Linked DNA regions of Homo sapiens. The protein of the gene in region 3 interacts with the protein of the main gene of each other region in a pairwise test. Each region holds a gene or a part of one and is shown on either strand. Other genes may lie near its edges.

Evidence for each region. Proteins that work in one complex are often made in the same cells at the same time.
Region 1: the proteins of PPP1R12C (region 3) and BHLHA9 interact in binary tests that used the Homo sapiens proteins (3 or more experiments, as listed by UniProt).
Region 2: the proteins of PPP1R12C (region 3) and RBM17 interact in binary tests that used the Homo sapiens proteins (3 or more experiments, as listed by UniProt).

The regions. Positions count from the first base shown.
Region 1 is NC_000017.11:1,266,069-1,272,692, forward strand, and holds BHLHA9 (class A basic helix-loop-helix protein 9), read left to right. Parts: upstream 1-4,375; 5' UTR 4,376-4,495; coding exon 4,496-5,203; 3' UTR 5,204-5,747; downstream 5,748-6,624. UniProt on the Homo sapiens protein: Transcription factor, which play a role in limb development. Is an essential player in the regulatory network governing transcription of genes implicated in limb morphogenesis.
Region 2 is NC_000010.11:6,098,759-6,106,410, reverse strand, and holds part of RBM17 (splicing factor 45), read right to left. Parts: intron 5,141-7,652; coding exon 5,024-5,140; intron 1,481-5,023; coding exon 1,314-1,480; intron 271-1,313; coding exon 173-270; intron 1-172. UniProt on the Homo sapiens protein: Splice factor that binds to the single-stranded 3'AG at the exon/intron border and promotes its utilization in the second catalytic step. Involved in the regulation of alternative splicing and the utilization of cryptic splice sites.
Region 3 is NC_000019.10:55,107,455-55,115,106, reverse strand, and holds part of PPP1R12C (protein phosphatase 1 regulatory subunit 12C), read left to right. Parts: intron 1-2,311; coding exon 2,312-2,442; intron 2,443-2,521; coding exon 2,522-2,640; intron 2,641-7,652. UniProt on the Homo sapiens protein: Regulates myosin phosphatase activity.

The DNA.
Region 1 (6,624 bases), on a different chromosome or scaffold from region 3:
CCACAATGTGCCAGGTACCGTGCTAAGGGCTTTCTGTGCATGGTGTCATTTAATGCTCACAGCTCTCTTATGTGGCAGTTACCAATTCATTTTACAGATGAAGAAACAGAGTGAGGGTCAGAGAGGTTAAGTCACCTGCTGCACCTCTTGAAGTTGGGATTGGCTTGGGAGTCAGCGAGGTTGACCAGGATGACTGCTTATCTCTACGCTGTGTTGTCAGGATTCTTGGTTGGAAACAACCAAATCCAACTTGAGCAGAAGGAAGAGGCAGGTATTGGCTCTGAGGTAGCTCACAAAATCAACGGAAAAAAAGTCTAGGGCACAGTCACTCACGCCTGTAATCCCAGCACTTTGGGAGGCCGAGGCAGGCCAATCGCTTGAGGTCAGGAGTTCAAGACCAGCCTGGCCAACATGGTGAAACCCTGTCTCTAATAAAAATACAAAAAATTAGCCGGGCGTAGTGGCGGGCGCCTGTAATCCCAGCTACTCAGGAGGCTGAGGCAGGAGAATTGCTTGCCCAGGGACACGGACGTTGCAGTGGGCCGAGATCGCGCCACTGCACTGCGGCCTGCACAACAGAGTGAGACTCCGTCTCAAAAAGAAAAAAGAAAAGAGTCTGGGAAATTAAGGTTGGGAAACTCGTAAGAATTATAGGAAACTGGGCAGCTAGACCCACGGCCAAGCCAGGAACCTCCTCTAGATGCCAGTGTAGGACGTGGAGGGCCACAGGCCCCGCACTGGCACCGTGATTTCTCCACTGTTACCTGTTTGTTTCTTTGGGACACCACTCCAGATTCAAGTCAGGCAGCCAAGTGCCTGGACTCGCATCTGTCCCAGTTACCAGAAATCTCTGCCACCCAGAGCCCCACCATGGAGGCTCCCTTCTCCCCAGATAGGAAGGCTGTTCAAATGCCACATAGCAAACAGTGATAACAAAAACATCCACCACGGCACACGCCTGTAGTCCCAGCTACTCAGGAGGCTGAGGCAGGAGAATCGCTTAAACCCGGGAGGTGGAGGTTGCAGTGAGCCGAGATTTCGCCACTGCACTCCAGCCTGGGAGACAGAACGAGACTCCACCTCAAAAAAAAAAAAAAAATAACCGAAGTCGTGGGTGCCCTGGGTCTGAGGTGACCATATGCCACTGGCTTTCTTGTCCCCATGTCCATGGCTGGACCTTTGTAGAGAGAGTCTCTGAACTAAGGCTTCTGCTCTTAAAGGAGAATATGGAGACGACACCCCTTTTTGTCATCTGCTTTATCCCATTGGCACCCCCACATGTCAATTCTATTTTCCAAACAGGTGTTGACTCCGTGCCCTTCTCTCACCACTGCCTGCATAGCTCAGGCCCCCCCTTCCTCCAGGATCCTTGCTTCCTAAGTGGAATTTGTCTTAACATCCATTCTCCACACTGCTCAAAGAGCTCTAGCTGTAATTCAAATACGGCTGACATTCCTCTGCTTAATAACCTTTTGCAGTACCCAGCTGCCTACAGGGCGAAAAGCAAGCTTTTGGGACGACGCCTGGTGATCTCCAGCCTTATCTCCCGTCACTCCCTGGCCTCACATTTGGTGGTTTGGCAAAGTCACTTTCCTGTATTTTTCGCATCATCCTGTGACCGCTTACACTTCCAGGGCCTGGCACCTGCTGTTCCCTCTACCTCCTGTCTGCTTGGCAAACTGCTATTCATCCTTTGAAATCCAGTTCAGGGCCGGGAGCGGTGGCTCACGTCTGTAATCCCAGCACTTTGGGTGGCCGAGGCGGGCGGATCACTTAAGGCCGGGAGTTCGAGACCATCCTGGCCAACATGGTGAAACCCCGTCTCTGGTAAAAATACAAAAAATAGCTGGGCACGATGGTGGGTGCCTGTAATCCCACGTACTCGGGAGGCTGAGGCAGGAGAATCGCTTGAACCCGAGAGGTGGAGCTTGCAGTGAGCCAAGATTGCGACACTGCGGTCCAGCCTGGGCGACAGAGCGAGACTCGGTCTCAAAAAAAAAAAAGTTTTTGTTGAATGAGCGCATGAAGGGGCAGAGGCTGCAATTGCGCCCCTACGTCTTCCACACCGGGCGTGTGGGTTGAAACGCCAGGGTCTCGCCTGGGAGAGAAGGAGGCTCAGGGCTTCCCGGGACCCGCTCTCCGGAGGGGGTGGGGTCGAGGCCCCCGTGAGCGGCTCCCGGACTTTCTCTCCCGGGCGGGCGTTCCGTCCTCCCTCGGGGAGCGGCGCCGGAACTTCCGGAGGAAGAGCCGGAACTTTTGAAGCCCAGGCCCCGCCCGGCGCTAATAGGCACCTACGCGGCCGCCGGCGGAACCGCCAGACCCTAAATCACGGCGCCCCGCCCGCCCCCGCCCGCCCCCGCCCGGGCCGAGAACTCGCGCTCCCGGGCACGGGCAGGTGCCGCGGAAATGCCGGGCCCGCCGCTCGCTTTGAAGTCGGCCGCGCCCCGCAGCGCCCGGGAGTCCCGGGTTCCAGGAGGGGGCGCCTCTCCCGGGTCCTCGGGGTTCTTCGCGTGGGGCCGTTTCCTGACGTGCGCGGGGAAGGGCGGGAGCGGCCGGGAAACGCCACCGGGAAACGCGCGCTGCGTGGGCATTTTCTTTGCTTTTACTGACCTTTTTTTTTTTTCTGGTTTATTTTTTGTTGTTTTTGAGACGGAGTCTCGCTCTGTCCGCCAGGCTGGAGCGCAGTGGCGGGATCTCGGCTCACTGCAACCTCCGCCTCCCTGGTTCAAGCGATTCTCTGCCTCAGCCTCCCGAGTAGCTGGGACTACAGGCTCCCCGCCACCACGTCCAGCTAATTGTTGTATTTTAGTAGAGACGGGGTTTCACCGTGTTGGCCAGGCTGGTCTTGAACTCCTGACCTCAAGTGATCCGCCCACCTCGGCCTCCCAAAGTACTGGGATTACAGGCGTGAGCCACTGCGCCCGGCCTCTAGCTGTTTTATAATTCGACATATATTGCAGATTTGGGGGACATAGAACCTGGGAAATACAGATGTCCTTAGGATGCTTTCATCCTAGTGGGCAAGGCAGACAATCACAGAAGTAAATACATACACTCTGCTTCCTAATGCCTTATTATTTTCTTTTATGGAGAAATTCACAGTTTGAAATAATGGGGTTATTGGCAATGCTCTTTTGGCGAGATGGATGTGAACCACACACCCATTCCAATGCCATAGGCCTTGGCATCTTAGAGGCATTTGGATTGTGACTGGGAATGAGTGGCCTTCAGGCGCTCCAAATAACTCAGCTGTGGATGCCGGAAATTCTACTGGGGGTCTTTCTTTGGGAATAAACATCATCTTTTTTCTGAGACCCTCTTTCAAATGCAAATCCCTGGGGGAAGAGGACAGAGGCTGCTCATTGAGTTCATAACCTGGCAGGGCTGTGTCACAAGATGGGGCTGCCCGAGGGCTCTGGACCCCAAAGATGCCCCTGATGTGGACCCAGGGCTGCAAAGGGATCTTCCCCGTCACCCTCTGCTGCTGACTCATCCCAGCTCTGCCTGCAGAAGGGGAGTCAAAGGGCAGTGGAGGGAGAGTCAGGCCCAACCAAAACCCGAACCCCAATTGCAGCCAGCCGCCCTCCATAGCTGAAAAAGCCGGAAGCTCTGGGTCAGCTTTACCTGCAGGGCCCTGCGCCTCCCATATGAGTCCTGCCGGGACACTCATGCTTTTCCTCAGTGACATCTCTGTGGTTGCCCACGGGACTTGACAAGAACTTTCAAGGTTTTGTTGTTGTTTTTGTTGTTGTTTTTCTGAGACGGAGTCTCGTTCTGTCTCCCAGGCTAGAGTGCAGTGGTGCGATCTCGGCTCACTGCAACCTCCAGCTCCTGGGCTCAAGCCATTCTCCTGCCTCAGCCTCCCGAGTAACTGGGATTACAGGCGCCTGCCACCACGCCCGGCTAATTTTTGTGTTTTTAGTAGACGGGGTTTTATATACTCTGTTGGCCAGGCTGGTCTCGAACTCCTGAACTCAAGTGATCCGCCCGCCTCGGCCTCCCAAACTGCTGGGATGACAGGCGTGAGCCCCAGTGCCCGGCCCTCTGCCTCTTTTTATTCCTATCAGCTCTCCTGCTAGAAGCCAAACTTAGCACCTTATCTGGGAATGGGGAGGAAGAATGTGGAACCCAGACACCCCACAGCGGCCCCAGAGCTAGGCAGGGCAAGGTCCCCGGGGCAGCGTGGCCGGGCTGCCCGTCTGGTCCCCGCTTACAAGAACCTGCAAGCTTCCCTCCTTGCTTTCCTTCTTCCCCTCGGTTCCTCCCCCGCCGACCTACCTGGAGGCCGATAATAAAGCAGGAGGAGGGAGATGGATGGACGGGAGGGCGGGGCGCCGCGTGGTGCCATAAAGCCCAGCTGGAAGGGGCCTGTCTCGGGAGTGTCCAGCCCCAGGAGCCGGGGACCGTCCGCGTCGCGAGCCGGGCCAAGGCAGTGGGCAGAGGGCAGAGGGCAGAGGGCCGGGGCTGGGGCAGAGGGCGAGTGCCCGGGAAGGCCATGCTGCGGGGCGCGCCAGGACTAGGCCTCACGGCGCGGAAGGGGGCCGAGGACTCTGCGGAGGACTTGGGGGGCCCCTGCCCCGAGCCCGGGGGCGATTCGGGGGTGCTGGGGGCGAACGGCGCTTCCTGCAGCCGGGGCGAGGCGGAGGAGCCGGCGGGCAGGAGGCGCGCGCGGCCGGTGCGGTCCAAGGCGCGGCGCATGGCCGCCAACGTGCGGGAGCGCAAGCGCATCCTAGACTACAACGAGGCCTTCAACGCGCTGCGCCGGGCGCTGCGGCACGACCTGGGCGGCAAGAGGCTCTCCAAGATCGCCACGCTGCGCAGGGCCATCCACCGCATCGCCGCGCTCTCCCTGGTCCTGCGCGCCAGCCCCGCGCCCCGCGGGCCCTGCGGACACCTGGAGTGCCACGGCCCGGCCGCGCGCGGGGACACCGGGGACACAGGCGCCAGCCCCCCGCCGCCTGCAGGGCCCAGCCTCGCGCGCCCAGACGCCGCCCGCCCCTCGGTGCCGTCCGCGCCCCGCTGCGCCTCGTGCCCCCCGCACGCGCCCCTGGCACGGCCCAGTGCGGTGGCCGAGGGGCCGGGCCTAGCACAGGCCTCCGGGGGAAGCTGGCGCCGCTGTCCGGGGGCTTCCTCTGCCGGGCCGCCTCCCTGGCCGCGGGGCTACCTGCGATCCGCCCCCGGGATGGGCCATCCGCGCTCCTGACCGGCCTCGAGGCACCGGCTGGGCTGCAGGGAGGCCGGGCTGGCAGCTGGACTATAAAACCCGGGACTGCAAAGGCGTCTTGGACAGAGCAGAACTGGACCGGCTGAGACCTGGCGTGGAAGAGAAGGAGCTCGCCAGAGAGAAGGAGCTCCGGGACCCGGGGTTGCGCCCCCACATCCCAGCCTGGGGCAGAGAGAAGGAGCTCCGGGGCCTGGGGCTGCGCCCCCACATCCCAGCCTAGGGAGGCAGTTGCCAGAAAGGCTCAGGATCCTGAACTCATCTTGGACTCGAACTCGTCTTGGAATGCCGCCTTCGCACTCCTGCGCCTCCGAGCCCTGTGTGTTCTCGATGCTTTTAGGAGAGTGAGGGCTTTGAGGCAGGAGGTGTGGGAGCGTGGGAATGCGGGTGGGGCCTGCTGTGGTCTCGTGGGCACATGAGTGCGGAGTCCCCTTCCCTGCCTGCGCTGCTGCCCAAGCCTGATCCGGGAGAGGCAGGATCCGGGAGAGGCAGGCAGGGGCAGCAGCCAAATAAAAGGAAAAACTCATTTCTCTCCGATACCACGACTCCAGTGGGCCCCGTGGCCCAGGGTGGCAGGAACGCCTGAGGGCTGGGGGCTCTCCTTGGAATGCTGGGCGGGGCCTAAGGCCCACAGGTAGGCGCCTGGGGGAACTCATTCATGGCAAGACCCCAGGTGTGGCTGAGCACTGTGGGAGCCCAAGGGGAGGAAAGAGACATCCAGAGACCCCTCCTCCCTGAGTCCCCTGGGGTGGAAGAGGATATCAGGAGAGGGGTCACGGGGCCTGGGAGTCTAAGGATGGGGTCAGCCCCGTCTCTGGACCTCCCTGCAGAGCTGCCTGGAAGCAGCCACAGTGAAGGGGGACTCTGGCCAGGTCTCAGGGAAGGAGGCCAAGGGCAGGGCTAGGATTGGGGGCCGGTAAGTCCTGCGTGCATGTACCCCGAGCGACAGGCAGGAAGAGCTCCCAGGGAACCGTGGGCCAGGGCCCCCATAATGAGGGGCCGACTTGGAACCCAGGAAGGATTCTGGGGAGGGGGTTGAGTGAGGGCAGAGGGGCCTCAGGCCAAGCCTGCTGAGCTAGTGAGAGACACAGCCAGCTGCCCCGAGAGTTTTGTCCAGAGAGCTGCCCTGCATCTGAGATGAGCTGGTGTCTGGCCCGGCTCAGGGTAAGGGTCTAATATTGCAAGGGCTGCCTGCTGGGCCAGAGCCCAGAGGTGCTGGGGGAGCGCTGGGCTCTTGCCAACAGGAGAGGGAAGGGTTCCCCACAGCTAGCTCAGAGTGCGGATCCCACAGAAGCTAGAGAAACGCCATTAGGCGTAAACCCAGGGAGAGTTTCCCAGAGCACGTGGGGTGAGGCTCACCTCTACAGTTAAAAGTGCCTCTGCTGTCTGCAAACCCCAGCCCT
Region 2 (7,652 bases), on a different chromosome or scaffold from region 3:
ACCCAATATAAATTAAAACTGTGACGCAAATGTGTATTGCTGGGATTCCAGAAAGAAAATTACCCAAATCAATGTCAAATGAACTATTTATCAAACTGAAAAGAAAAAGCACATAGTGGAATTGCACTTCCAGTATTTATATATGTTTAAGACATATTTGTTCATGCCTTACTTCTTTTCCTCCTCTCTCGCTCATAATCTTCATCTTCATCAGAATCTGGATCTGGTCTCCTTGCAAACCCACTTGCTTCATGTCTGTCTTTACGCCTTCTGTGATAACAAAGGAAATAAATGTTCATCACAGATGAACCAATTTAGAGACCTGAACCTGGGATGACTTCCTCTTGACCAGAAGATATCCAAATCCTGTCACAATCAACTATGAAGTTGCAGGGGTAGAGGGGGTAGGAAGCATAACTGGTAAAAGACTAAAGTAGATAAAAGTATGAAAAGTGAGAAAAATTCAAGAGATAAATTGAACCAATAAGTATACGAGAGCAACCAGCATGAAAAAAAAGGTTCCTTGACATTGACCTCTTCCAATGTTAAAGCCTATCAACATAGTAATAGTTCAATCATTTCAATAGTCTATAACACTTTCACTCATGAAATGATTCAATAAATGGGAAACAGTATATTAATATTTAATACATGTTAACTATTTGATAATACTAAATATTTTTAAAAAGAACTACAAATACATCCTACTACTCGTACTTTGCAAAAACATAAATAAAAGCTGCATATGAATTTTTAAAAATTCCACCTGGCTCAAAAATAGTAAAGTTAAGAAGAATATTTCAAGTACTTTAAATAGCTGTGATTTTACAAGTTGAGAATCCCTTATTCCAAATGCCTGGGACCAGAAGTGTTTCAAATTTTGGAATATTTGCATTACAATTACCAGTTCAGCATCCCTAAGCCAAAATCCCCCAATGCACATTTCCTTTGAGCGGCATGTTGGCATTCAAAAGATTTTGGAGCATTTCAGATTTCGGATTTTTGAATAAGGGATAGTCAACCTATAGCAGAGTATCAGCATAGAAAAAAATTTTCAACATCAGGTTTATAAGTTATTTTTCTAACAACTCACTCAAAATATACACTTTAGGTCTTCAGTCTACAGGTGAAGTTTGCTGTGATTCTGAGATGTAACAGGTACAAATCGTAAAACAGTTTGATTCCTTGTAGTGACTGCTCAGATCACCCATGACAATTAACTTCAGCCTTACAGACAGCAGCGACGCTCATTCGTTAACATTTTAATGAACATTTCAACTGTAAAATATCCCCAAATCCAAAGGAAGCCTTACTTTTCCCTTTCTTCTATTTCCTTTTGTCTTTCCAGCTCCCGCTGTCTCTGTCGTTCCTCTCTTTGGCGCTTCACTACTTTCTCATAATCATTAGGAAACATAGGGTCATATTCGTCAGCTAAGGGAATCAGAACTTCCCCTGCAGAAAACCCACTGGGAACAGGATCCTGAGGAAGGTAAAAACAGCAGTAAGAATCCTCTTTATATCTTACCAGTTTACTCACAGGATTCAGGTCAAAGCGTATGGGAGATAAAAGGACTCTGAACATCATCTAGCCCCTTCCTCTGTTTTAAAGACAAAGAAAACAAATACCAGACAAGGCCACGTGCCTAGTCAGGTGGTAGCAGAAACAGGACACAAAATTTCACCTCTTAGATTAGTACTATTTCTATAATACTCTATGGCATTTTTCCTGGAATTCCTAAATAAGCCACCACCAGCTAAAATATAAGTTACTAGTACTTTGAGTCAAAAAATTAGAATACTTATAGTAAAGCACTGAATACTTGTTTTTATAGATCTCTATGACAACTTAAAAAATAAAACAACCATGAACACCACAATCATTCTTGCAGTCATCATTTTAACAGAATAACTTCAGATTCTGATTACATGGAGATAAGAATATATGGAGATCTTAGAAAGCATCTTCTTGGTCTTTCTAATCCTCTGAACACATGTCCCTTCCCAGGTAGGCTGCATTTCAGGCACTGAGTTTGACACAAGGGGATGTAATGTCCCTTCCAGCATCATAATTTTTTTTAAGGTTCACTAAAATCAGGTTTAGATAACACTTCGTGTTTTCTCGTCTATACATTCAGAAACTTGGTCTACTCTTTGAAAGAAAAGAGGTAGCCATGACAAAGAAATTAGCAAAACGAGAGGCAGAGCACAGCCAGTATACTAGGAAATACATGAGCAGACACAGAACTTTACCCTAGGCTGGCAGCCTCGGTCTACACGTGGTGCTGGAAGCCCTGACCCCACTTTCCTAAACCTTCCCACACTTTCTCCTGTTAGTGTTCTTAGCATAATTCTTCGTTATTATCTGTAACAATAAGATGCCTTCTCTGGTTTTGAAAGACACCTCAAACAAGCACAGGTTAGGATTAGTGTCCCCATTTTTTTTAAAACACACATGCAAAACAACAAGGATTCATGTCCTTGAGCGCCCAGTCTGTACCTCTTACAGGAGGTACAATGTCCAACTGTATCAAAGGCAAGAAGGTCGTTTGTAAACGTGTTTCCTGCTTGAACACAGAACTGACAAAATCAAGACAGCTTACACGCCATATTAACAGACCTAAATCGAACAGTTCCTGTGTTTCATGGTTCGGTGTGACATTTTGCACTATAAAACAAACACTTCACCATTTCCTTACGACGAAATATCAGGAAATGCTATGATCCAATGAATAAGAGCAATTAGGAAAATAACTATAATCACCTCCCAGGCCCTACCCACTGGAAAATGTATTTAATGTAGGGCTCCTAAAGGTTAGTTATACATTTGTATTCATTTTATAAAAGACATTTAAAAAATACAAAAGCACATGAAGATTTCTTTTCAGTTATTATTTAGAGAGAAAATGACAACCAGCCACTCAATTTATCTAACACAATTATCACAACGTGTCTAAGAGAACAAACTGTCAATATGAAGGTTCATTCTCTGACACTTCAAAATTTCAAAGAAAAAAACTTTTACATATAAACCCTGCTATGCTTAACAATGAAATCAATCATCCTTTTCTAAATGCTGCAATGAATAAAGTGATTTGTTCAATTTAAAAAAATTAAAATGTTAATACCCTCAATGCTGAGGGGGGAGGATGGGGTAAAATTCACCCTCATATGCCTGAGGTGATACTGTGCACTGCTGGGAGTAAACTGGTGCCAGAACAGATTGGCCATAAAAATGGCTGATATCTTAATGCCACCTCAGAAAATCTAAGAAAATAACCCTAATTACATAGAAACATCTCTGTAAAGATGTTCATTAGAGGGCCGGGTGCAGTGGCTCATGCCTGTAATCTCAGCAATTTCGGAGGCCAAGGCATGTGGATCGTTTGAGCTCAGGAGTTCAAAACTAGCCTGGGCAACATGGTGAAACCTCATCTCTACAAAAAATTAGTCAAATGTGGTGGCATATGCCTGTGGTCCTAACTACTCAGTAGACTGAGGTGGAAGGATCGCTTGAGCCCAGGAGGAGGAGGCTGCAGTGAGCCAAGATTGCACCACTGCTCTCCAGCGTGGTGACAGAGCAAGACCCTGTCTCAAAAATAAAAACCACAAAAAGATGTTCATTAGAGTGGTATTTATAAAGGCAATGTAAAAGCAAATCTAGGTGGTTTTACAGTTAGGGAATACTTGTGTAAATTATGATGCATTCGCTTAATGAGAATTAAAAACTGATCGTGAAAACTATGTAACAAGGAGGAAAAAGGCTTACTCATTAAATAGGAGACTAATATTATAGGTACTAGAACCAATACACGATTACAGAAGAAACTATGAACCAGTTTTTAAATTAGATGTAGCAGGAATAAACTAGGTATCAAATTTATGGGGGAAAATGCTCAATGACTAGGAATCAGCAAAAAAACACCTCCACCATGTGGTGCTTCCCCTCCAGAAGAACTACCAGCCCTCAGGAACAGCACCCGCTCCCCTCAGAAAAGGACAACTCAAGGGTAAGCTGCAGCCACAGACTGGCCCAGAACATAAGCAGGACAGGCAGGAGACGGAGCCCAACCCAGAACAGTGACGTGAAACAGATGGGCAGGAGTGTGCCCTTTGCCCCAGCCTGATGCAGCCCTTCCCACAGGTGGTGGGGAGGACAGGCGCGCCTTGCTAAGAAACTGTCTCGATAGCACTATTATTAATCTTTTGGTCATTTTTCATCAAGCGGTTTTGTGCAATTCATGATGCTGTTTAAATGACCACAGTCATTATTTGAACGCCATCTGTGGAAAGATAAATGTATACTTAAATTGTGGGTATAATTTTAACTAGTTTATTCACTCATTTTACCTCATTTTGTCTAGTTTTAACTATGATTTTGAGTTATCCTTTTCCAGATCTTCTTCATCCTCAATAACCCAATTTATAGAGTTGACCACATGTTTGTTTTTAAGCATATGTAAAATCACTGGAATCATACAGGTTAGGGTGGTAGAAGTGGGTTTTAAAACCCCTTTCTCTGTTTTAATCCACAATAAATCAGTAAGTACTAACACTGTTTATGATAGCAAAAAATAGAAACAACCCATATATCCAGCATTAAAGGAATTAAATTATAGTCCATCTATATACAAGGGAATATAGTGAAGCCATAAACGTGATCATACAGTCCTGTATTTTTTGACAGAGTCACAACGTATTAAGTAAGAAAAGCAAGTTAGCAGAAGGTGGAGTAGGCACAGGATGGAAAAATATTACGTTTTTCACTTCCGGATTGTATGACTGAAGGTAATTTGTTTTTCTTTCTGCGTATCTCTAGTTTCTGATTTTTCTACAACAAACTATTTAATTTCAAATAGATACATTTTAAAATTGGCAAAACAGAAGTAAAAATTAGGTGGAAAATGATACTAACTTGGTTTCAAAGGCCCACCAAGGAGGCCATCTGTTAAGAGTAACTCATATGCAAAATAAGCCACATGGGAACAGAGACACGTATCAAGCTCACAGGCAGGCGCGGGCTTACCTTCAGCCCAGCTGCTACATGCGGTGGAGTGTCCACAATTTGCCGGTCATCTGAGGAGCCACCTCGCTTCAGGTCAATGACTGGGGCGAGGACTGTACTTTGTTTCGTCCTTTGGCTCTAAAATCATCAAAAACAAGGAAAACATACTGAAGTTTCAAATTAAAATTCACACTGTTTGCAACAAAGATTTTCTTTCTGGTCCCTGCAACAAACCTTTGAGATATGAGAAAACCATAATCTCAAAACAACAGCCTTTTAATTTATTACTATAATCATATATTATTTTCTTTCAGCTTTTTCAAAAACATGAGATTTTCTCCATTTCTGTGAAAGGTTTACAGTAAACTTAGTCACTTTCAAAAGATACTTGGGGATAAGAGTTTTGTTCCCTCCTACTAGGATATAGAATCCTTCCTATCTCCTTTATTATGAATCTACAAAAAAAAGTTTTTAAAAGAAAATCATTTCTATACATTCAATTATTGTTAATGTTCTACCATACTTCTTGCCCTTACACCTGTATTTTTTGCTAGACCATTTGAAAGAAAGTTGGAGACATCATGACACTTCACCCCAATCTCCTGAAACCGTGGACATTCTCCTGTCAGATTACTACCCCTAATAAAATCACTAATTCCCATGTCATTTCCCATCCAGTTCACATTCAGATTCTCCAAGATATCCCAAAAATGTCCTTTAAACAGCTGATTTTTTTTTTGAACCAGGATCCTACCAAAGTTCCTGAAATGCTTTTGGTTTTTAAGTGTCTTGATTAAGAACAGTCCCTCTTCCCCATCATCATCATCACCATCATCTTCATCTCCTCTTCCTTTTTTTCCTCTGACACTATCTTGTAAAATGCTGTTTGTTCTAGATCTGTCTAATAACTACCTGGTTATTTAGTTGAGCTTGTTCCTCTATGCCTTGTAATTCCTGAAACCTGGAGGTTAAAGGCCTGATCGAATTCAGGGTAAAGCTTTTAGGCAGGAACACTTCCCAGGTGAGGCAGTGTGCCCCTTCCTGCAACACACAGCAGGCACACTGCGTCAGGCCGTCTAACAGCAATGCTAAGGTTGATCATATGGGTATGGTGGTAACCATTAGATCTTTTGATTAGAAAGGTTTAATTTTTCTCTTTTGCAATTTAAAGTGTTACAAATTTTCATTACCACTATAAAAGGCACAAAATAAGCCTTCATCTCTCTTGAATATAACAATACTTATAAATTTAAGCAAACAAAATTTAATCCAATTAACAACTCACAAAGTAAATACGAAAGTTTACAGAACGGAAGGGGGATTTATTAGAATCACATATTTTCTTTCTTTCTTTTTTTTTGAGATGGAGTCTTGCTCTGTCACCAGGCTGGAGTTCGATCTCGGCTCACTGCAACCTCCGCCTCCCAGGTTGAAGCAACTCTCCTGTCTCAGCCTCCAGAGTAGCTGGGATTACAGATGCACGCCACCACACCGGGCTAATATTTGTATTTTTATTAGAGATAAGGTTTCACCATGTTGGTCAGGCTGGTCTCAAACTCCTGACCTCAGGTGATCCACCCGCCTTGGCCTCCCAAAGTGCTGGGATTACAGGTGTGAGCCACCACGCCCAGCCAGAATCACATATTTTCTATTATTATTATTTTCTATTCAATATAGAGTTGGCCCTCTGTATCTACAGGTTCCACATCTAACCCCAGGCTGAAAATATTAAGAAAATAAAACAATACAACAAAAAATACAAATAAAAAAACCAATACGGTATAACAACTTTTTACACAGCATTTACATTGTGTTAGGTATTGCAAGCAATCCACAGATGATTTAAAATATGGGAGGATGTGTGTTAGTTACGTGCAAATACCACACCATTTTATATAAGGGACTTGGGCACGCTTGGATTTTGGTATGGGCAGGGGGGTCCTGGAACCAATCCCCTGTGGACACCAAGAAACAACTGTATTTTTTCAAATGGAGATACAAATGAAACCACAGCTTCAAATTTTCTCTACCAAATAAATACCTTTACAGGTTTGGCTAGGCCAATCTAGTATTCTGAGTAACTAAACAGCCTAAGAGAATGCAATCTTCACTTCCCTTAAAAAAAAAAACCCACAAAACTAACTGTACATAGCAATCTCAAAAGTTTTATAAAGTTAGTAGAAATAACTTCACAAGCTACCTCAAGTTTTAAAAATCTATATGAGGCCGGGCACGGTGGCTCACACCTGCATCTTCCCTGCAAAGCAAAAGTTACATGAAATCTACAAAGATTTTATAAATGTACTTTTAAAAAAAATTAAAGAGAAAAACGAGGTTTTGCTAACCCTCCTTACATTTGGAATGAAACCTTGTTTTAAAAAAAACACAAAATACTGGCATCCAAAAAATCTAAATTTGGTAATGATGAATTTTAAAAACACAAAAAAACCTCTCTACAATACTGAACAATCAAATGTAAGCACTTCCATGTAAGTATCTATTGATGTGGTAAAGGGAAAAGAAAAATGAGTAGAACTTTTAAGAAAAAAAACCTGTGTATTGGCCGGACACGGTGGCTCACGCCTGTAATCCCAGCACTTTGGGAGACCAAGGCAGGCGGATCACGAGGTCAGGAAATCGAGACCATCCT
Region 3 (7,652 bases):
ATATTCCTCCGCCCAGAGCAGGGTCCCGCTTCCCTAAGGCCCTGCTCTGGGCTTCTGGGTTTGAGTCCTTGGCAAGCCCAGGAGAGGCGCTCAGGCTTCCCTGTCCCCCTTCCTCGTCCACCATCTCATGCCCCTGGCTCTCCTGCCCCTTCCCTACAGGGGTTCCTGGCTCTGCTCTTCAGACTGAGCCCCGTTCCCCTGCATCCCCGTTCCCCTGCATCCCCCTTCCCCTGCATCCCCCAGAGGCCCCAGGCCACCTACTTGGCCTGGACCCCACGAGAGGCCACCCCAGCCCTGTCTACCAGGCTGCCTTTTGGGTGGATTCTCCTCCAACTGTGGGGTGACTGCTTGGCAAACTCACTCTTCGGGGTATCCCAGGAGGCCTGGAGCATTGGGGTGGGCTGGGGTTCAGAGAGGAGGGATTCCCTTCTCAGGTTACGTGGCCAAGAAGCAGGGGAGCTGGGTTTGGGTCAGGTCTGGGTGTGGGGTGACCAGCTTATGCTGTTTGCCCAGGACAGCCTAGTTTTAGCACTGAAACCCTCAGTCCTAGGAAAACAGGGATGGTTGGTCACTGTCTCTGGGTGACTCTTGATTCCCGGCCAGTTTCTCCACCTGGGGCTGTGTTTCTCGTCCTGCATCCTTCTCCAGGCAGGTCCCCAAGCATCGCCCCCCTGCTGTGGCTGTTCCCAAGTTCTTAGGGTACCCCACGTGGGTTTATCAACCACTTGGTGAGGCTGGTACCCTGCCCCCATTCCTGCACCCCAATTGCCTTAGTGGCTAGGGGGTTGGGGGCTAGAGTAGGAGGGGCTGGAGCCAGGATTCTTAGGGCTGAACAGAGAAGAGCTGGGGGCCTGGGCTCCTGGGTTTGAGAGAGGAGGGGCTGGGGCCTGGACTCCTGGGTCCGAGGGAGGAGGGGCTGGGGCCTGGACTCCTGGGTCTGAGGGTGGAGGGACTGGGGGCCTGGACTCCTGGGTCCGAGGGAGGAGGGGCTGGGGCCTGGACTCGTGGGTCTGAGGGAGGAGGGGCTGGGGGCCTGGACTTCTGGGTCTTAGGGAGGCGGGGCTGGGCCTGGACCCCTGGGTCTGAATGGGGAGAGGCTGGGGGCCTGGACTCCTTCATCTGAGGGCGGAAGGGCTGGGGCCTGGCCTCCTGGGTTGAATGGGGAGGGGTTGGGCCTGGACTCTGGAGTCCCTGGTGCCCAGGCCTCAGGCATCTTTCACAGGGATGCCTGTACTGGGCAGGTCCTTGAAAGGGAAAGGCCCATTGCTCTCCTTGCCCCCCTCCCCTATCGCCATGACAACTGGGTGGAAATAAACGAGCCGAGTTCATCCCGTTCCCAGGGCACGTGCGGCCCCTTCACAGCCCGAGTTTCCATGACCTCATGCTCTTGGCCCTCGTAGCTCCCTCCCGCCTCCTCCAGATGGGCAGCTTTGGAGAGGTGAGGGACTTGGGGGGTAATTTATCCCGTGGATCTAGGAGTTTAGCTTCACTCCTTCCTCAGCTCCAGTTCAGGTCCCGGAGCCCACCCAGTGTCCACAAGGCCTGGGGCAAGTCCCTCCTCCGACCCCCTGGACTTCGGCTTTTGTCCCCCCAAGTTTTGGACCCCTAAGGGAAGAATGAGAAACGGTGGCCCGTGTCAGCCCCTGGCTGCAGGGCCCCGTGCAGAGGGGGCCTCAGTGAACTGGAGTGTGACAGCCTGGGGCCCAGGCACACAGGTGTGCAGCTGTCTCACCCCTCTGGGAGTCCCGCCCAGGCCCCTGAGTCTGTCCCAGCACAGGGTGGCCTTCCTCCACCCTGCATAGCCCTGGGCCCACGGCTTCGTTCCTGCAGAGTATCTGCTGGGGTGGTTTCCGAGCTTGACCCTTGGAAGGACCTGGCTGGGTTTAAGGCAGGAGGGGCTGGGGGCCAGGACTCCTGGCTCTGAAGGAGGAGGGGCTGGAACCTCTTCCCTAGTCTGAGCACTGGAAGCGCCACCTGTGGGTGGTGACGGGGGTTTTGCCGTGTCTAACAGGTACCATGTGGGGTTCCCGCACCCAGATGAGAAGCCCCCTCCCTTCCCCGTTCACTTCCTGTTTGCAGATAGCCAGGAGTCCTTTCGTGGTTTCCACTGAGCACTGAAGGCCTGGCCGGCCTGACCACTGGGCAACCAGGCGTATCTTAAACAGCCAGTGGCCAGAGGCTGTTGGGTCATTTTCCCCACTGTCCTAGCACCGTGTCCCTGGATCTGTTTTCGTGGCTCCCTCTGGAGTCCCGACTTGCTGGGACACCGTGGCTGGGGTAGGTGCGGCTGACGGCTGTTTCCCACCCCCAGGCCTGCATTGATGAGAACCTGGAGGTGGTGCGCTTCTTGGTGGAGCAGGGCGCCACTGTGAACCAGGCAGACAACGAGGGCTGGACGCCACTGCACGTGGCCGCCTCCTGTGGCTACCTAGATATCGCCAGGTGAGGCAAGGGAGGGCCGGGCAGGACCTGGTCGGGGTGGGGGCCTGGACCCTCAGCCCTGACCAGCCCCCACCCCCAGGTACCTCCTGAGCCACGGGGCCAACATCGCCGCCGTCAACAGTGACGGGGACCTGCCCCTGGACCTGGCCGAGTCGGACGCCATGGAGGGGCTGCTGAAGGCGGAGATCGCCCGCCGAGGTGGGCTCTGGTGTGCTGTGTGTGGGGTGGGGGACACCTCCTCACCCGTGGTCTCCAGGCTGAGAGCTTTAGAGGCGGCCTGGGCACCGAGGCTGACCCTGCTTCCTAGGATTGTCTTTCTTTGTGCCTCAGTTTCCTCACCTGTGAAATGGGGGTGTAGGGGCCTGCCTCCAGGATTGCTTGGAGCCCAGCACACGCACAGGATGAGAACTCAAACCCCTACCAACTGGGACTGTCAATCCCCCTGAGTAACTGAGGGGATTGGAATGCCGGGGCGGGGTGGGTGGGTGGAGGGACTCACCCAGGAGTGCGTTAGGTAGGATTGCTGGAACCCTGCCGCAGGTCTTTCTGGGAGGGGATGCGTTTACTTGGGGGGGAGTAGGGGCATGCAGGGGTTGCCAGGGACTGGTCTCCCTGTCCTCTGAGACTCATCGTACCCCAGGAGCCTTCATATGGGGTCCAGGAGCCCCTGAAACTGTGTCTGGCCAGGTTCATTTTTCTAGGGAAGGGGTGTTGCTTCTAGCAGGTGTGTGATGGCCACACAGGATCCCTGGGTCCCCAGCATGTCTTCTAAAGTCCTGGGCTTGCCTCCCAGCTCTGCCTGTGACTGGTGACTCCAGGCACGTCCCTGAAGCTTGCTTCCCTGATTTCCTAAAACAGGACCACTGGTGCCGCTTCATGGGGTGGTTGTCAGGGTCTGGCTGGGTTGGAGTGGAAGGGTGTGAGCATGGTTCCCGGCAGACTCCAGGGGACCGTGTGGAAGGAAAGGGAGACTGACGAGGAAATGAGATACCGGCAGCCTCCGAGACTTCTGACGCGGCTGTCCTGACGGGGCCGCTGGCCAGGCTGAAAGGATAGGATTCCGCGTGGGTTCAGGGGTCCACGAGAGCCATGCGGGAGGACTAGCTAGTGGGACACGTGACGGCGGAGATCTGAGGTTCGGGAGCCCCTCTTTGGTTGAAATGGGGAGTGGGTCAAATCAGCCCTGGACCTGGATTCTGTCTCCTTCCTCCTCCAACTTTTTATTTTGGGAAAGCTTCAGATTTACAGAAAAGTTGAAGCAATAGCATGTGACTACCCATATGACTTTCACTAAGATTCGCCAGTGCTTTTTCTTTTTTGTTTTTGTTTTTTAGACAGCTTTTTGAGATGTAATTCACCTACCCTACAATTCACCCAAAGTGCACACTTCAGTGCTTTTTAGTCTATTCACGGGGTCGGGCATTTATGACCACATTGGTTGTAGAACATTTTCATCATCCCCCAACGAAACCCTGCAACCGCTTAGCCATCACCCCCAACCATGCACCCCCCCCTCCCCCCCACCCCACGAAGCCCTCTCTGCCTTCTGTCTGTGGATTTGCTGTTTTGTACACTTCACATAAAGGGAATCATACAGTATAGAATCATCAGCTTTTAACTTTTTGATAGATTTGTGTTCCTTCTCTCTGTCCCTCCCTTGCGATCTCTTCCCAGGTATAGACATAAACACATTTTTTCCTATCCTTTCTCCTCCTGTTTTTTTCCCTCCATCTCTCCCTTCCTTTCTTACCACCCCACCCCTGCCTTTCCATTCCTGAGCCTTTTTTTTTTTTTTGAAACAGAGTTTCACTTTTTGCCCAGGCTGGAGTGCAATGGCATGATTTCGGCTCACTGCAACCTCCACCTCCTGGGTTCAAGCGATTCTCCTGCCTCAGCTTCTGGGTAGCTGAGATTACAGGCGTGAGCCAGCATGCCCAGCTAATTTTGCATTTTTAATAGAGATGGGGTTTCACCATGTTGACCAGGCTGGTCTCCAACTCCTGACCTCAGGCGATCTGCTGGCCTCGGCCTCGCAAAGTGTTGGGATTACAGGCGTGAGCCCGGCCATTCTGAGACTGTGTTGCAGGCATTGTACATCTTCGCCTGATGCACAGCAGGTATCTCCTGCCACAAGGAAAACCTCCTGCAGAACCACAGTAGGGATGCAACACGCTACCCCCTGTGTTGACCTTGATGCTACACTCTCACCCACCGCACCAACCTTGATGCTACACTCTCACCCACCGCACCAACCTTGATGCTACACTCTCACCCACCGCACCAACCTTGATGCTACACTCTCACCCACCGCACCAACCTTGATGCTACACTCTCACCCACCGCACCAACCTTGATGCTACACTCTCACCCACTGCACCAACCTTGATGCTACACTGTTGCCTGCGTTTCTCCTTGACATTCTTTGTAGCCTCTCCCGCTCTGGTTCAGGGCCCAGCTAGGGATCCAGATCTGGGTGATTTAGGCTCCCTCTGTCTGGATCAGTCCTCCTTTTCCCTTGGACCCCAGGGAGGCCGGGAATGGCCTCCAGGGGGTCTGTGAACTTTCTGACGTTGTATTTTCCTGCAGAAATTGCTCATAACTTGCATCAGCTTCTCAGAGGGGGCCATGCTTCTTCCCTCCCGTGGGGTGAGGAGAAGGCTGGGAGGGATACATTGGTGGGGGATATTGGCTTGTAGGATCAGCCAGGAACGAAGACCACTGGGGCCACTGGAAAGACCCTCAGCCGTGCTGCTCGGGGTGGGACTCTGCGGCCCCAAATCACAAGGCGACTGCCTGTGACACCCTGTGACACCCGGCTCCACACAGGAGCCTCAGAGGGGCTGCAGTGCGCAGGACCTGGATCACAGGCTGCACCCCAGCTCTAAGGAGGGCGGGTCTTTTGCACCCCCTGCAGGACACGCCCACATGATGCAGAATTCCCCGAGGTGCTGGCATCCAGACTGGCTCTGGCCATAGTGTGGCCCTGGCAGCCACTCACAGGCAGGGCTGGGAGAGAAGACAGACCGGCCTCAGGCACGACCATCCCCTTCGCTTTCCCTGGCTTACTTGCTGTTTTCCTCTCTCTGGGTCTGGGGTTCAGTGAGAGCACGTGATCTGCTCAGCCAGTCACCTCGTGGCCTGGAGCCACCGCTCCCTCCAACACCGCAAAGTCCTCTGGCCCAGTCGACTCAGGGGCTGAATCGGGCATGACTCTTTGCAAGAACCAAAACCCGTTCCTCCTGGCTCAGGCCGGAAAAGGCCATTTGAGGCCTGGCACAGTGGCTCAGACCTGTAAGCCCAGCACTTTGGGAGGCCAAGATGGGAGGATCTCTTGAGCCCAGGAGTTTGAGACCAGCCTGGGAAACCTAGTGAGAACCCATCTCTATAAAACAAAACACATTAGCCAGGCGTGGGAATGCACGTACGCTCCCAGCTACTCAGTAGGCTGAGGTGAGAAGATTGCTTGAGCCTGGGAGGTGGAAGATGCAGTGAACCACGGTCACTCCAGCCTGGGGGCAAGACCCTGTCTCAACCAAATAAACCAAAACAAAAAAGGCAATTTATATACCCGTGTTCATAGCATCGTTCACAATAGCCCAGAGGTAGGAGCAACCTAGTGCCCATCATCGAATGAATGGAAAATCAACATGTGGCCCATCCATGCGGTGGGACATGATTCAGTCTTCATCCCAGCACTTAGGGAGGCCGAGGCGGGCGGATCACCTGAGGTCGGGAGTTTGAGGCCAACCTGACCAACATGGAGAAACTCTGTCTCTACTAAAAATACAAAATTAGCCAGGGGTGGTGGCACATCCCTGTAACCTCAGCTGCTCAGGAGGCTGAGGCGGGAGAATCACTCGAACCTGGGAGGTGGAGGTTGTGGTGAGCCAAGATCGTGCCACTGCACTCTAGCCTGAGCAACAAGAGGAAACTGTGTCTCAAAACAAAAAACAAAACAAGACAAAACAAAAAACACACAATGTAGATGTATCTTGAGGACATTATGCTAAGTGAAAAGTGAAAATAAGCCAGTCACAGAAGGACAATTACTGTCTGATTCCACGTCTGTGAGGTACCCAGAATAGTCAAAATAATGGAGACAGACAGTAGAATGGCTGTAGTCAGGGACTGGGAGGAGTGGGGAGAATAGGAAGTAGTTTAGTGGGTACACATTTTTTAAAATGATTTTTATATTTTTTGTGGAGACGGGGTTTCACCACGTTGCCCAAGCTAGTCTGGAACTCTTGAGCTCAAGTGATCCACCCACCTTGGCCTCCTAAAGTGCTGGGATTGCAGGTGTGAGCCATTGTCCCTGACCTAGGGTACACGATTTTAATTTTGCAAGATGAAAAAATTCTGGAGATTGGTTGCACAACAACCAATTGTGACTACTTAATGCCACTGAATTGGGGTTAAAATGGTAAATTTTAGGCTGGGCGCGGTGGCTCAGGCCTGTAATCCAGCACTTTGGGAGGCCGAGGTGGGCAGATCACCTGAGGTCAGGAGTTTGAGACCAGCCTGGCCAACATGGTGAAACCCCGTCTCTGCTGAAAATATAAAAGTTAGCCGGGCATAGCGATGTACACCTATAGTCCCAGCTACTCGGGAGGCTGAGGCAGGAGAATTGCTTGAACCCAGGAGATGGAGGTTGCAGTGAGCCGAGATCTCACCACTGCACTCCAGCCTGGGCAACAGAGCAAGACTCAGCATCTCAAAAAAAAAAAAAAAAGATGGTAAATTTTATACTGTGTGTATTTTACCACATTTTTTTCACTCTGAGATGGAGTTTCTTTATTTTTATTTTTATTTTTTATTTTTTTAATTTATACTTTAAGTTCTATGGTACATGTGTACAACATGCAGGTTTGTTACATATGTATACATGTGCCATGTTGGTGTGCTGCACCCATTAACTCGTCATTTACATTAGGTATATCTCCTAATGCTGTCCCTCCCCCCACCCCACGACAGGCCCCAGTGTGTGATGTTCCCCTTCCTGTGTCCAAGTGTTCTCATTGTTCATTTCCCACCTATGAGTGACAACATGCAGTGTTTGGTTTTCTGTCCTTGCGATAGTTTGCTGAGTGATGGTTTCCAGCTTCATCCATGTCCCTACAAAGGACATGAATTCATCCTTTTTTATGGCTGCATAGTATTCCATGGTGTATATGTGCCACACTTTCTTAATCCAGTCTATCATTGATGGACAT